Linked DNA regions of Homo sapiens: region 2 is linked to region 1. A link means that fine-mapping ties the variant in region 1 to the expression of a gene that starts in the linked region. Tissue or cell type: whole blood. Region 1 holds a variant in brackets; the other region holds the start of a gene. All regions are shown on one strand. Distances are between the middles of the regions.

What was found. PIP is the estimated chance that this variant, and not a neighbour inherited with it, causes the effect.
Region 2: it holds the start of COPG2, and the variant in region 1 is fine-mapped to the expression of COPG2 in whole blood (INTERVAL, PIP above 0.99).

Annotation. Positions count from the first base shown.
Region 1 is chr7:130,508,619-130,516,725 of GRCh38, reverse strand. COPG2 (coat protein complex I subunit gamma 2) reads left to right here. Exons shown (of 24, transcript NM_012133.6): 21 at 8,067-8,107. Among named protein-coding and RNA genes, the nearest start is that of MIR335, 17 kb to the right of the region's middle. The variant T/A (reference allele first, on the strand shown) is at 3,420.
Region 2 is chr7:130,664,489-130,672,595 of GRCh38, reverse strand. It overlaps COPG2 (coat protein complex I subunit gamma 2), which reads left to right and starts at 3,848. Exons shown (of 24, transcript NM_012133.6): 1 at 3,848-3,964; 2 at 5,062-5,114; 3 at 5,667-5,747. The coding sequence starts at 3,928. TSGA13 (testis specific 13) reads left to right here. Exons shown (of 8, transcript NM_052933.4): 7 at 808-935; 8 at 3,413-3,953. The coding sequence ends at 3,582. RefSeq lists silencers at 3,476-3,585, 3,676-4,265 and an enhancer at 4,536-4,645.

The sequences.
Region 1 (8,107 bases):
CTTGTTAATACACAACTCTGACAAATTCCCAACTCTCATTTCCTAATATTCCCATTTAGCCCTCTTTAATGCCCTTCCATATCTGTTGTTTTTCTGCACTGCATGTTCTGCCCCCTACCTCATTCACACGTTCTCTTTCCCTATTTAGCATCCAACCTCCATCTTTTGTTCTCTCCTTCTTTGCGATTTTTGCATATAAGTCTCCTCAGTTGCTTCTCTCACTTTTGGCAAGTCCTAATATGTTTTCTTAATTTCTGAGTACATCCTTAATGTCCCTCTCAGAACATTTTTCCAGATTTCCCTTTGGAGGCTTCCCCTGTATAGCCTAACCTTTCATAGTGATGGATACATATTCTTTTTGAGGTTTCCTCCCCTCATATCCCCACTGTCTCCCTCATTCAAAACCAGTTTTCTACTCTTCAGATAAGCCTTCCCTTCCCCTTAGATAGCATCTAACCTGGCTTCTTTATTTTCCATCATGACCTTTCGCCCAAGTATGGTGCCAAATACCTCCAGTTAGTATCATTGACACTTTTTTTGGTCAATACTAAGTGATGCCTTCTCGTCTGGAAGCAATTTTAACTTCACTATTGTACACCTTTTTATTTTGCCTTATAAAAACTATATTCAGTATCCCTCCTTCATTCAGAGACTGTGTATGTCAGTTCCATAGATTCAGTACTGTCTTTTGGATAAACAGACCCCTCACACTCAACACTCACTGTTCAGACTGCACACTGGATCTGAGATCCACAGCTTCCTGAACAGTGACCCCTCATAACCTCAATTCTTACCTAGCCACGTTCTCTCCTTCCTCTGTCTACTTGAGTGGCTGTGACTGGATTAACATAAAATCACTCTACCAGAGTTGCTACTCTCCCTGTCCCAGTATTCCTCATCCTGTCATGCTTCAGTGCCCTTCCTCACTGGCCTGCTTACTGTGCTGCAAGTTCAGCCTCCAGCCTCATTCATTTATCCCTTCCCTTTTGTACCCTCCATCACCTCCATTCTCTCCATCTCTCCTCTCCTTTCATTCAAGTCTCTTCAGTTGCTTCTTTTAATTTTCAGCTGACCCTAACACAACAGTTGCTAGCAGAGGCTCTTTATCAGAATTGTTCCTAGCCTGCCTTTGTCTAAAGCAGTGGTTCTCCAACTGCAGCTGGTTAAAACAAGCTGCAGGGCCTTACCCCAGGATGTGGTTTGGATCTGTATCCCTACTCAAATCTCATGTCGAACTGTCATCCCCAGTGTTGGAGGTAGGGCCTAGTGGGAGGTGACTGGGTCATGAGGCCAGTTTCTCATAAATGGTTTAGCACCATCCCCTTGGTGCTGTTCTTGTGATAGAGTTCTTACACGACCTGACTGTTTTCAGTGTGTGGTACCTCCTCCCACTCTCTATCTTTCTCCTGTGAAGTGCTGGCTCCCCACCATTCACCTGCCGCCATGATTGTAAGTTTCCTGAGGCTTCCTCAGCCATGCTTCCTGTACAGCCTGTGGAACCTTGAGCCAATTAGACTTCTTTTCTTTATAAGTTACCCAGTCCCAGGTATTTCTTTATAGCAATGTGAGAACAGATTAATGCACCCTGAGTTTCTGACTGACTAGGTCTGGGGGAGGGGAAAAGAATTCATATTTCTAACAGATTCCTAGATAGTGCCATGTAACACATTCTAAGAAGCATTGCTCTTCAACTTCTCCCTCAACCAAGCCCTTTAATTAAAAATCTCCCACTAAGGCATCAAGAGCGAGTCTACTGACTCATTCCTATTCAGGTCTTTCCTTCTCTCCCATATACTAGTCACTGCAATCTGGCCTTACACCCACTGAATTTGGCCAGTTGGGCCCATTCTGAGATCTGGCAGGATTCTCCAGGCATCTTTATGGCGCTGTGGTCTTTCTTATTACCACGCCACCTTTTCAGAATCATTATCTAGTTTATTTAATGCTCCCCTTAGCTTTAACCCCTCTTCATGTCTTTTGGCCCAAATATGGGACTGTCTCTCCAGTCAGTCCTGCCATTCTTCAAATGACCTTTTCATCTGGAGTCAACTTTAATGTTTTCTCCTATTCCTTTTCTCCTTGTTACCTATCTTGCCCTAAAGATGTACGCTACCTTATCTTCAGCCTCCCTTCTTTTAGCTGCTGTCCATATTTCATTCAGATGGACTCTGTCTCCTCCTGAATGGCACTTCCTAGCCAAATTCTCTCTAGTGTCTGTCTCTCATCTGTAGAAAATCTTCACATGACAGAGTAACTTCTAAGAGTAACTTTAATACCGCACTTACATGATATTCATTTGTTTCTCCCCTTTGGTGATTTGCCCTCCCTTAATTATATAGAGTAAAATTTCATCTACCATCTGTACCTGGAAACAAAGAAGTTTCACCCTTGAGATGGGTTTCCAACATGATCTCCAGCCACTCCTCTTCCAATATTAGTCATCCATTCTACAAACTACTCAAAGATCTATCCTGGTGTCTTTAAGTGCTGCCCTATTAGGGCTCATCTTAATCCATCTCCTTCTAATCCTTCTCATTAAACTTCTCACAAAAGCTTCGCATTACTTTTCAAGCACTTGTTCTTCTTCCATTGTATCTACTGCTTTTCAAAGTCTGCAATTAAGAGCCAACATTTGACTGAATAAACCCACATTTTTTAAGGGTTTACAAGATTTCCCATTCTGGGAAACACTTTCCTCATTTTACCTGTCCATGCCACTCCACCTACGCTTACCTACTCTTTGTATAGTTCTCCCTTTACACAGTTTCCAGTCTCTCCTTATTTAATCTTACACTTATGGGGCCGTATCCCTCCAGTCAATACCTGCCAATCTTCAAATGACTCCGTCTCTTCTGCAGGCTCTTCCACTATTTTCCCCAGTTGACCCTAGTAGAACAACTGTTAGTCACTTGTTTTTTCAGCTATCATCTTGTGTATCATTCTCATGAATTTAGTCTTTTCTTCCTCGTCACCTCCACACTACTCTGAAAACACTTGCACTTTCAGTTCATTCCAGACCTTCATAGGGTTCCTGCCACTGCCTATGGCAAGAATCCATTCCATTTAAACTCCTTGACCTTTCACTCTATTGGTCACACTTGTTGCTTCAAACATCATTCAAGCAAAGATTCCCAGATGGCACTTCCTCATGACACCAGTTCTTATTTATCTACTTACTCTTTGTATTCTCTTTCCTTCTTTGGTTGTAACCCAGCTTAACTCACATCTCTCTACTGCATATGCAGCTCTGCCATCTTCTGGTGTTCCTCATTCTGGCCCTCTTTAATGCCCTTCCCTACCCATACATATATATGTATATGTGTATATATATATATACACACACACACACATATATATATATATATACACACACACACACACACATATATATATATATATATATATATATATATATATTT[T/A]TTTTTTTTTTTTTTTAGACAGAATTATTTCACTCTTGTCACCCAGGCTGGAGTGCAGTGTGGCCTGATCTCGGCTCACTGCATCCTCCACCTCCCGGGCTCAAGTGATTCTACTGCCTCAGCCTCCCAAGTAGCTGGGATCACAGGCACCTGCCACCACGCCCAGCTACTTTTTGCATTTTTAGTAGAGATGGGGTTTCACCATGTTGGCGAGGCTGGTATCAAACTCCTGACCTCAAATGATCCACCTGTCTCAGTCCCCTGAAGTGCTGGGATTACAGGCATGAGCCACCGTGCCCAGCCCCTACCCACACTTTATATTCCACACTCCAGCCTAAATCCTACATCTTTTCATCTTTTAGCTTCCAGCCTCCATCTTCTCTTTCTCTTCCCCTGTGATATTTTCATTCATGTTTCCCTAGGAAATGTCTGTCACTTTTAGCCAATCCTCACATAGCAGAGTAACTTCTAGGCAACTTCAGTGGAACACTGTGCAATAGTCTACGATATCTTAACTGTCAGTCATCCTTTCACTTGCCATCTCTCTCTTTTTTCTTTTTTTGAGACGGAAACTCACTCTGTCACCCAGGTTAGAGTGCAGTGGCGTGATTTTGGCTCACTGAAACCTCCAGGATTACAGGCATGTGCCACTACGCCCAGCTAATTTTTGTATTTTTACAAAAATTTTTAGTAGAGACGGGGTTTCACCATCTTGGCCAGGCTGGTCTCAAACTCCTGACCTCAAGTGATCTGCCAGCCTCAGCCTCCCAAAATGCTGGAATTACAAGTGTGAGCCACTGCACCCGGCCTTACCATCTCTACAGAAATAGATATAGACTTTTTTACTTCACTCTTCATAATCACCCATTCCCCATCTAGTAGCAATAATCCATTCTCTGGACAAACTACATGTTCACACTCTCTTAATAAATCAAGCCTAATATTTCTAAAGTTGCCATCTATAGCTTTTTTGTTGTTTTTTGTTTTTTTTTTTTAGATGGAGTTTTGCTCTTGTTGCCCAGGCTGGAGTGCAATGGGGCTTGGCTCATGTTAAATTGTCAGAGTTGTATATTAACAAGGAGAGTTGTGTATTAACAAGGAGAGTTAACAAGGCTCACCAACTCGGCTTACCACAACCTCTGCCTCCTGGGTTCAAGTGATTCTCCTACCTCAGCCTCCCAAGTAGCTGGGATTACAAGCATGGGCCACCACGCCCGGCTAATTTTGTATTTTTTTTTTTTTTTTTTTTTTTTTAGAAGACACAGTGTTTCACCATGTTGGCCAGGCTAGTCTTGAACTCCCAACCTCAGGTGATCCACCTGCCTCAGCCTCCCAAAGTGCTGGGATTACAGGCGTGAGCCACTGCACCCGGCCCATCTATAGCTTTTTATCAGCATTCATCAGTTTATAACTTTCCTATCAAGCAAGTCCTTTAATTAGCCATTCCCTCAAAAGCTTTAAGAGCTAGTCTGCTGCTGCCTCCTACTGAATTCCTTGCTCCTTAACCCTTTCTGTGTATTTCCCATGCAGCCGACCATTTAGACCTAGACAGGATACCCCATTCTAAATCTTTATTCCACACCTGCTCTGCCAGTAGGCCCTTCCTTATGTAATATTTTCTTTCCTTTGCTTCCAGTCTCTTATTTCATACTCTCTTATGACTTTTGGCCCAGCAATGCTGTCTTACCTTCCTGTTGATGTGTGTCATTCCTTAGTGACCAACTCCTTTTCATCTGAGGACAACTCTAATGTTGCTTTCCAGTACCATTCCTCCTTCCCTTTCTGAATTTGTCCTAGAGAAAAACTCCCTCCCACCATTTGTACAGCATTCCCACAGACTCAACACGATTTTCCAGGTAGGTGTGTATTGCTTATTTTGGCACTCACTGCCCAGCTTTCCTCGATGTCCTACACACTATGCTGCACCCATTGCTTCTCAGTTCAGTCCAGACCTGCATAGACTGCTGCAGTTAGCCTGTACAGATCCATCTCTTTTGCCTTCTTTCTAATCTTTTGCCCTAGTGACATACCCTTTTCTTTAATTATTATTCTAACAAAGCTTTCTGGAAATACCTCATAAGTGTCTCTTACTTTGTCATGGTCTCCCCCAGGTGGTTGAGACCTGGCAGCTCCCTCCCACCTTTCCCACTCTGCCCTTTGCCACACTGCATTTTCTGTACCCTGGCCCAACTCACATGTCCCTCTCCTGTCTTAGCTGCCAGCATCTATCTTTTCTCTAATTCGCTGGGTTCTTTTCATACAAATCTCCTTAGTGGTTGACTCTCATTTTCAGTGAATCCTCACAAGACAAGCTTAATTTCAGAGAACAGTTTTAATGCAGATCTTCAGGGCATTCTTTCCTGATTCTCTTTGGTATTTGCCTTGCTTTGTCTGTGTAACTCTCATATTTACATTATGGCAGTGCATTCAGTATTTTCTTGCCATGGAAAGGCCCCCGCATCTTGCCTCCTCGCCCCATTTCGTCATCCTCTCCAGCAGCTTCGACAGATTACTGCCTAGACTTCCTTAGATCCCTGTAACCTCTCATTGTATCAATCAAACCATTTAAGTAAAAAAATTCCCACTAAGGTTTCAGGAACATTATCTCTACTAACACCATTCCTATTTACTTCCTTAATCTCTTTCTCTGTATCAGGTCCTTATATGTAAGTGTCTTCTGTCTTTACCTCCACATAAAACTCAGCCCCTGTGCCCAGTCTGTGATCTGCCTTCATACCTGATGTTGTCTCTTTGTCCTCCTCATTTGCTGTAGCCTCTCTGCTTAATTGGAACCACACTGGGTTGCTATAATTAATGTCTCTCCTGACTCTTCATTCTAACTTGATCATGACCTTTTCCCCTACCATATTCTGTATCTCTTTCATGGTTTAAAAAAAATGCCTCACCTGACCTGTTCTGGCCTTGTGTTAACTTTCACTTCTTTCCCCTTCTCTCTGAAGAAAATCCTATCCTAATTAAACCACAGTCGTTCTTTTCTCAACCCCTAATGGCATTGAAATTGATTCTGCAGGCTTGATAGGTTCATTCTTTCCTATATGGGAAAACCCACTGCCATCGTCTGTTTTCAGCATATTCTGTTGAATCCATCTGCTCTCTGAATTCAGACCCATTCTTCATAGTCCCCACCAGTGGCTTAAATTAGGCACCTTATCTAGCTTATCTCTAACCTTTCAATCTCTTGACTGCCTCAGCTCACCAGAGCCTGTTGGAAAATCATTTGAAATACAAGGTATTTTACAATTTATTCCTAAACAAATTATCTTCTCAGCACCTAGGCATTAGCATGCCTCTTACTGTTTCCAGCTGCCCGGTGGACTTTCTGGCCTCTTTCCTTTTGCCTGTTTGTACATCTTCCTCTGCTTGCCAAAGCTCTTTTGCATCTTTTGAGAGCCAGTTAAACTATTATATCGTTTCACATTTTTTACAGTTTTCCCAGGCTATTTGTTAATCCCGCACCCTCACATGGCACTCTCTTAAAACTTAAAGGATCTATGGCATTGAGTTGTAAAGTCATAGATAGATCACACACACACACAGCCCACACACTTATTTAACTCCTAGACAGCTCCTAGAGACAGAGATCATGTCTCAGTCATCTTTTTATCCAAGTGTCTGGCACATAAGCTTATACCTTTACGTGTAATGTCAACATGTATTGACAGTCACTACATGTGTGGATGGATGAATGGATGGAATTTAAAGTCAAGACTGAGCAGATGAAAGTCTTATTACCCAATCTGTCGTATATGGTCTTCACATCTGAGCCTGTTCTTTCCTCTCCTTGCCTATCCCCCAAATAACTTTTTAACTCTCCCAATATCTAATATTTTTTGTACCTATAAGCTTTTTCCAGACCATAGACAAGATCCTAAATGCCTTTTCTTCATCCCTGCTTGCTAAATCCCCTCCTTCAAACATTTCAGAAAATACTGTCTTTACTTTTTATAAAGACTTCACTTTCCAAAAATGTACCCCCACCTCCATTTCTTATTACTTAACACCACTTGTGTGAAAACATACAACTGCCCACTTGCTTTTCCATTTAAGACACTGACTTTACCAATACTAGAAACTCATTACTGACCTACTCACTTTAGGCTGAAGGTTGACAGATAAAGCAAGTTCTCTCTGGTGATCTGTGGACCCGCCATCAGTCCACAATCTAAAGATAGTATTGAGATGCTGATGAGATTGGTCAATGTTAATCTGATGATCTGTATGCTTTTTACCACAGGTTTTTTTTTTGTTTTTTTTTTTGGTCAGGTCCTACAGCAGTGGTTCTCAAAATATTTATTTTTCAACATTTAGGCCCCTTTGATAGGCATGGCAAAAAGCCCCCAAAAGTACCTCTCTGCTGCTTTCTTCATACCAATAGAGAAACAGTCTGCCCATGTTATCATTTCTGTACTGCTGTAACCCACAGCGTGGAATAGACTTTACATTCATGCTTTGTGAGACTGCCTTCCTGACCCGCTTGTAGGCTGCTTTTGAGAACCACTACCCCAGACAACAGGGCATGTGTGTTTAACTGGAAAATGTGGAACACAGTGCTGAGTACAGATGGAATGATGGAAACGTCTCCCTTGCACTCCCCACTGATGCAGGTTTGCCTCCCTTCTCCTCCAGTTGCAGGCTCCTTTAGCTGCACCATGAAGTTTACAGTCCGG
Region 2 (8,107 bases), 160 kb before region 1:
CTAACCTCATTGACACATGAATCAAAGAGAAACAGTCATGCAAAACTAAGGTTTTGCACTGGCAATGGTTTCAAGATTGAGGGGAAATATTCCAAGGTCTGTGCTTTGAAGAAACAGGAAAAAAAAAAAAGTACCCTCAATACAAGTTAGGCGCTATATCACAGGAACCATGTGCTATGAGAACACATTAGACAAAAGAGGTTTTATGTGAAACTACTTACAAGAGCAGCCTATGTGTAGTTTAGAGAGGACAGAAGAGATTCTGGAGTTCCTCCAAAGGTTTACAGTGTTAAGTTCAGAAGCATCCCTTGTCACGGAACAATATTCCTACTTGGCACCAATCAACAGGCTCCTATCATTGTCTTGTCTTCTCTGAGAATGTAGCCAACTTTAAAGTGAATGGTGGGGCTGGGCGCGGTGTCTCATGCCTGTAATCCCAGCACTTCAGGAGGCCAAGGTGGGCAGATCACTTGAGCTCAGGAGTTCGAGACCAGCCTGGCCAACATGGTGAAAACCGTCTCTACTAAAAATACAAAAATTAGCCAGGCGTGGTGGCAAGTGCCTGTAATCCCAGCTACTTGGGAGGCTGAGGCAGGAGAATCGCTTGAACCTGGGAGGCAGAGGTTGCAGTGAACCAAGATCATGCCACTGCACTCCAGCTTGGGTGACAGAACAAGACTTGTGTCTCAAAATAAATACATAAAATAAAATAAAATAAAATAAAATAAAATAAAATAAAATAAAGTGAATAGTTCCATGAATCCCCCTGCCCTAGGATCTACTAAACAAAGAACTTTCTTTGTTAAGGTTTTCCACTGACAATGATTTCAAGAGCGAAGGGAAGTATTCAAAAGTCTACGCTTTGAGGACACAGAAGAAAATGTACCCTCAGCTCACCTTTGCTCCAGTCCATGAGAGAGATATGAGGAAAGATGGTAAGCTCCTCTCTTTCAAAGCAAAGGCTTACTGGACTGAGATTTGGGCTGGAGATACAATCCATGAGGATTATAGATGTGGCAAACTGGCTTCTCTCGTGGTAGTCCTGGAGACTATTTTTCCCTATAGCATGGAAGTTAACAACAAATAGAGGCTCAAAAGGTGCAAAGCTCTGGACCCTGTTTAAATCCTCAAATTTCAAGAAAGCTCTAGCAGTGTTTACTAAGCTATATCACCCAGCACTTTAATAGTTTTTGCCATATTGATGTATTATTTGCTGTTAATTTACTTAGCATTTTTTAAAAGGATTTTTAAAAAATCTTGTCCTAATTAATACTATATCATTGATATCATGGTTTTGATGTACAAATTATATGCTTTTCTGAAACACTTATATCAAATTTATAATAATGAAATTTTAAAATGTTTATCTATGTACCACCTAGAACCACCCAGTGGTATGCATATTATACTTTGAAGAAAAAACTGCTCTAAAAGGGCCAAAGGATAAGTCTGTGTGTCTTAGAGGTACAAAAGTCTCTGGGATTGGGGTAGGGAATGGGGTAGAAGGGGCTTGGAATAAGGTTGTATGGCAGAGGGTACAATGAGAATCCTCCTCACATATTATCATTTATTTAACAGTATTTCAAGGGTTCCTACTAAGTGTCTGACACTTACCAAGCACCAACAATATCACTTTCAATATGTGAAAGAGATGAAACAGATCATAAAAGGCCTTGACAGGCTGGGCGTGTCCGTAATCCTAGCAGTTTGGGAGGCTGGGGCAGGAGGATTGCTGGAGGCCAGGGGCTTGACACTAGCCTGGGCAACATAGTGAGATCCTGTCTCTACAAAAAATAATTTAAAAAAATTTAACAGGGTGTGGCGGCATGCACCTGTAGTCTGAGCTACTTGGGGGGCTTGAGGAAGGAGGATTGCTTGAACCTAGGAGTTCAAGGTTGCAGTTAGCTGTGATTATGCCATTGCACTCCAGCCTGGGTAACAGAGTGAGACCCTGTCTGAAAAACAAACAAACAACAATAACAAGAAATCGAAAATACCACAATGCCTTAAATATTATTTAAATAAAGGTTTGGGTTTTATCCAGTAGGCAGTTTGGACCCAATGAAGAATTTCAGGGCACTGAGTACACATTTGTGTATTAGATATATATAATTGGTGGGTCCTCAGACTTCACCAGCTCATGGTTTTAAGATAAGGTCCATTTCTCCTACTGGGTTTCTCTCCTCAAACAATTCCTGAGACTCCCTAAGGTATCCTTGCCTGTCCCACAAAGCCATTGCAGTGATTGCTCAACCCGTCTGCCAGCCATCCTCAGTCCAAATAGTCCTGATACCGAAGGCCTGGGGTCATATTATACCATCCCTTAACTGGCTTCTTCAGGCTTCTCTGCTCCTGCTATACCTATCTGCCACCACATCCCATCCCATTTCCACCTACTGATGCTCTTAACTCCGTAAATACTGCACAGCTAAAAACAACCTGTGGTATTAAACAAAACTTCATAGATATACAGAAAAGCTGAAGAACAGCAGAGAATGATTGATCTTGCTTTACAAGGGGCTAGTCTTAGGGTCAGCCCCAAATCTGAACTCAGGTCCTTCTACTTCTCAGCAGGTCTCCGGGGCATTACCCACCTTGAGAACCTCTGGGCCTATTATCTACACTGTCTCTGCCTAGGTTCCCAATACCCTTGGGCCAAGGAAGAGGAAGAGGATGTTTCCTTCCCCAAAGCCTGTTTATTTTCACCCCCAGAATAAATGAGTGCAGACTTCTATTTCCTTCAAAGAAAACTCCACCTACAAAGTATGACTTGACCTTTACAAGCCATATAAAGCAAACATAGTAGTTAATAGTACATTTAGTCAAGTCGGAGTTAAATCTTAAATGATACCATATGTAGGATATCAACAGTTCATCTTAAATCTGTATTTCAGGGAAAGAATTTCTCTAGGATGTAGAATGTAATCTAGGTTAGAATTTCTCTAATTTTGCAGGGGCACGATCCTGTTGAGTATAGACCCAATTTACATTTCTAAACAAGTTATGCCAGTGAAGCCAAAGGCAGACAAAGTTTCTTAGCTACACTCTTAGACAAGAGAACAGAAAGCCAGCATACACTCTGAGAAAAAGAGGAACATGAGTTAGGAATGAATGCACGTTAATTTAGTGAGTTTCTTAAGTGTCAATATGGTTTCAGATGGAATCATTGAAAGAAATAGGCTTGAACAAGGAAGACTCTAAACTGGCAATGAATTTTCCACTGGGTTTTGATGAAATGAAGGAATCCAAAAATTATAAAATAGGTTGGGAATGGTATTACACGGTCCAAAATCTACCCTCTAAAGACCAGCCTCTGGTCCCTCCAAGTGCGTCTCCTTTACATCTCACATTAAGTATCCTTCGAGTACTTCTGAAAAGCCACATTCACCAGGGTGCCTGTGCTTTGTCGTAGCTTCCAAGAAGTCAGCGAGTGAAAGGCCAATTTCCAAAGTGATTCGGGAACCACTGACACTCGCATCGCTCTTGGAAGACATGCCCACCAGAACCGCGCCCGGGGAGAGCGCCTTCCGCAACGGGAGGGCCCCGCAGTGGATTATCAAAAAGGCCACGGTCATCGGGTGAACACAGACCCCTCAGTCCTCCCGCCTCGCTCTCTTGAGACTGAGGGGTCCGCAGAAGTCGCCACCCAAATAAAACCACATTCCTGCTGCTGCGGGCGTGGGCTCCCGGGTCGCAAGCCGGGAGGGTCGAGCCGAAGTCTCCGGCGGGCCGCAAGAGGAGAAGGGGGCGTGGCTGCGTCCCGGGGGCCGAGGGCGGCCGGGGAGGGCGGGCCTTGGCCCCGAGTGAAGGCGCGGCGGCCCAACCGGCGTGAGAGCGCGGGGCCGGCCTTCCTGCAGCCTCTTCCGCTCGCCGGCTGCGGCGCCTGGGACGGTTGCGGTGGGTCTGGGCGCTGGGAAGTCGTCCAAGATGATTAAAAAATTCGACAAGAAGGACGAGGAGTCTGGTACGCGCGGGGCTTCCGAGGCCCACCCTCAGCCGCGGGACGCCCCTTCCCCCGCCCGCCGCCACCTGCTTTCAGGCCGGCGGGGCTGGGGGCGTGGGCGCCGCCGTGCCAGGGGGCCGGAGCTGGAGCCGGCCCCTCCCCTCCCCTCGCGGCTGCCCGGGGCCTGCCCGTAGCCCCTCCCCCGGGCGCCGGAGCCTCCCTTCGGGCCGCGCGCTCCCGCCCCGGCGCCCGCGCGCGCCCCGTTCCCGCCCCTCTTGCGGCGCAGCCCCTCCGAGCCGCCTCCTCCCCTGCGCGCGGGCCTCCGGCGGGGGCCGAGGGCGTGCGCGCGTCTCCGCGTCCAGGGGTGCTGGTAGGGTCGGACCCCTAGTGGGAGCACCCTGTTCCCGGGGCTGGGGTCGACGGCACAGGGTGTGTGTGGAGGAACGTTCAGGTGCCTGGTACCTTATCGTTTTCCTGGGGTCACCGGCTCTGTCCAGGTCCCCGGGGGCAAGACTGTCCCGTGGGACACAGCTCGTTGAATGCTCAGGTGTCCAGAAGTGACCTGCGTCTTGATGCCCGTCTTTGGTCCAGAGCAAATGGGGAAGATGCCAAGCATCCTCAAAAAGAAAAAAATTCTCAGTGTTTGGTAGCATCTCCCACAGTGTGAGAGGGGGTTGGGTTAGTCAACCTCCATGGCCTCTTGCACCTTTACGCCTGCATGATTCTCTGGGAAACTTCGTTTCTGCCTCTCCTTAAGTGTTAGAAACACATAAAATACTGCTTACCTAAGGAAATCAAAAGCACCCTACTACAATCTCATTAATCTTCGTTGTTGTGGAAATGACACATTTTTAACATTCATGGAAAAAGAGGGCAGGGAAAGAAGACACTCATTTTGGAGAGGGTTGCTGCGAAAGAGAAGTCTCAGCTCTTCGAGTATGGCAGTGACAGAGCCGGGATCAAAATGATTTCATTCAGTTCGTATGCGTATTAGCCATGATTATCACTGTGCCATCCAAGTGTTCACTTCCCAAGCATTCAGTACCCTTCTCTGGAAAGTATATAAGTTTGTGTAGAACAGCTGTTCAGGACATTTTTTTGTTTTGTTTTATAAATAGGTAGTGGCTCCAATCCTTTCCAGCATCTGGAGAAGAGTGCTGTTTTACAGGAGGTATGACTGGGAAGTATCTTGTGCCCTTTCTTTTCTATTCTGTTTTAGAGTGGTGGGCAGAGAATCCCTGGGCTGCTGTGATCACGACATGCAAAACAAGAAACGTAACAGAGTTTAGGGAATATAGATTTGAGGGAAAAGAAAGAGGGGTTACTTGTCACAGGAGAATTTGGAGCTTATAGAAATGCAAAGACATGAAGACTGTCACAGGTTGGGAATTTTAAATGTAAGAACAGGTGTTTAGTGCAAGGTTATTGAAATCAGTTATCTGTATTAATCTCATTGTATTAGTATGATATAGATAAGTATTGTGATCCTTATTTAACTGGTATAGCCCATAAAGTTGAAGTAGTCAACCTAAGGGAATGAGAAAGTATAGGATGGAAAATCAAGGCCACGTGTAATAATTTATCAGATACCTTAGTAAATTGAGAACTATAGACAATGTTCTTTGGATACCGTGATTAAAAATAGTCTGTATTAAAGTTGATTTGCTATAATCTGTGATAGAAAAGGTAGAAAAGTAGCAATGTTTTTTATGTTTTTTCATAGGCTCGTATATTCAATGAAACTCCAATCAATCCAAGAAGATGTTTGCATATTCTTACAAAGATTCTTTACTTACTGAACCAGGTATATTATTTTTATTTTCCTCAGATAAGTGTGTCCTGGAATAGAAATACTGAAGATTCAGTGAAATACTTTCTGGAAAGTATATTTATTTATTTTAAATTCACTTAATTTTAACATATACAACGTTTGGTTAACAAAATAATATGTAAAACTTGAGTACGAGGACTATGACATATACAGGTTGAGTATACCTTCTTTGCAATGCTCGGAACCAGAAGTGTTTTGGATTTCAGATTTTTTTGGATTTTGGAATATTTGCAGAATACATACTCACTGACTATTGCTAATCTGAGTATCTGAAATCCAGAATGCTCTGATGAGTGTCTCCACTGAGTGTTATATTGGCACTCAAAAAATTTCTGATTTTGGAGCATTTCAGATTTTGGATTTTGAGATTAGAGATGTTTAACCTATACTTCCTTTTTATTCATGAGATCCTAAACCAGTGATGCGCATAGTAGATTCTCAATAAATCCTTTGGTTTCAATTTAATGAGTACTAGTTAGAGCATGTTGTTTACATGTATTTGGAGATCTTCATGTTTTTCTGAAAATACAGTGCAAGATCAGGCAAATTCCAGATATTTTCTTTTTTATGTGTGTAATGATGTTTTAAAGCTTTGATTGTTAATATTCAGATTTTATATTTATTATCCCTATGCTACCATTACTAGCAGAATAATTCTGGGCAGTAGCTTAACCATTTTATGTGCCTTGATGTCCTTTTCTCTACATGGGGATTATGATAATACCTGTTACAGAGTTGTAATGACTAAATGAGATAATTAGTGTAAAGCACTGAGAATAGTCCTGAACATACAGTAAGCATTCAGGAATAGTTTTCCTTCCGTCATTCAGCAAATATTTATTGCGTAGCTGCTGTGTGCTGTGCACTGTTTTAGGTGTTGGGGATATAGCAGACAAACCAGCAAAAATATTTGCGCTCATGAAATGTAGATTCTGCTTGCTGCTGTTGTTATTAATTTTTCTTTTCTTTTTCTTTTTTTTTTTTTTGCCCCAGACTTAAAAAAAACTCATGAAATGTCTAGGGCCTTAGAAAATATGATTTTGTTTCATGGATTCATATTCCCTCAGTATCAGTGGGGAATTGGTTCCAGGACCTCCATTGGATACTAAAGTCCATAGATGCTCAAGTCCCTCATACAAATGGTGTAGTATTTGCATATAACCTACACATATCCTCCCATATATAAGTTGTCTCTGTGATTATAATACTTAGACTATAATCTCTAGATTACAATACCTGGTGCAATGTTAGTGCTGTGTAAATAGTTGTTGTGCTGTATTGTTTAGGGAATAATGACAAAAAACCATCTGTACGTGTTCAGTACAAACATAGTTTTTTTTTTCCTTGAATATTTTCAATCTGAGCCTGGTTGAATCCACAGATTCAGAACTCATGGTTATGGAGGGCTGACTATATATGTCTATACACATACAGACGGACACATAAAACATACATATATACCATATACCTCAGGTGGTTTACATATGGTGCTAAGATAACCATGGTTTCCAATTTGAATTCTAAGAGAATATATTATCTTTACTTTGTTTTGTGACTGAAGACCTCACTCAGAGATTTAATAAAGTTTTCTTGTTTACAAATGAAGACTAAGCAACAAGCACATAGATTTTTTTTATTTTTTGAGATGGAGTCTCGCTCTGTTACCAGGCTGGAGTGCAGTGGCGCAATCTCGGCTCACTACAACCTCCACCTCCCTGGTTCAAGCAATTCTCCTACTTTAGCCTCCTGAGTAGCTGGGATTACAGGCATGCACCACCACGCCTGGCTAATTTTTATATTTTTAGTAGAGACGGGGTTTCACCATATTGGCCAGGTGGGTCTCAAACTCCTGACCTTAGGTGATCCGCCCACCTCAGCTTCCCAAAGTCCTGGGATTACAGGTGTGAGCTACTGTGCCTGATCATCAAACACATAGTTTTAAATAAAATATATCTGTTCACAAACAACATAATCCCTCTGTGTCAGCATATGAGAAACATTTAAAGCATAGTCAATTGGGTTTAACTTTTCATAGCACACATTGTGTCTAAGTTGGCCAAATCCATTGTATAAACAAAAGTTTTGAATAGTCAAAGTTGATTGAGAGTAACATGTATTTTTATGTTGGTCATTACCTCTTCAATGAGGCAACTCATGTTGAAACATTTAATTATCTTGATAAGGAAATTACCAAGCACAGCATAAACACAATTAACTATATAAACAGGTTTGGGAACATAAATTTTATCTCTTTGCCTAGAACTTGGTAGAGCTTTATAGAAAGATACTTTTGAATTTCTATGAGAGTTGACATATCCATGTGTTTTCTGAGT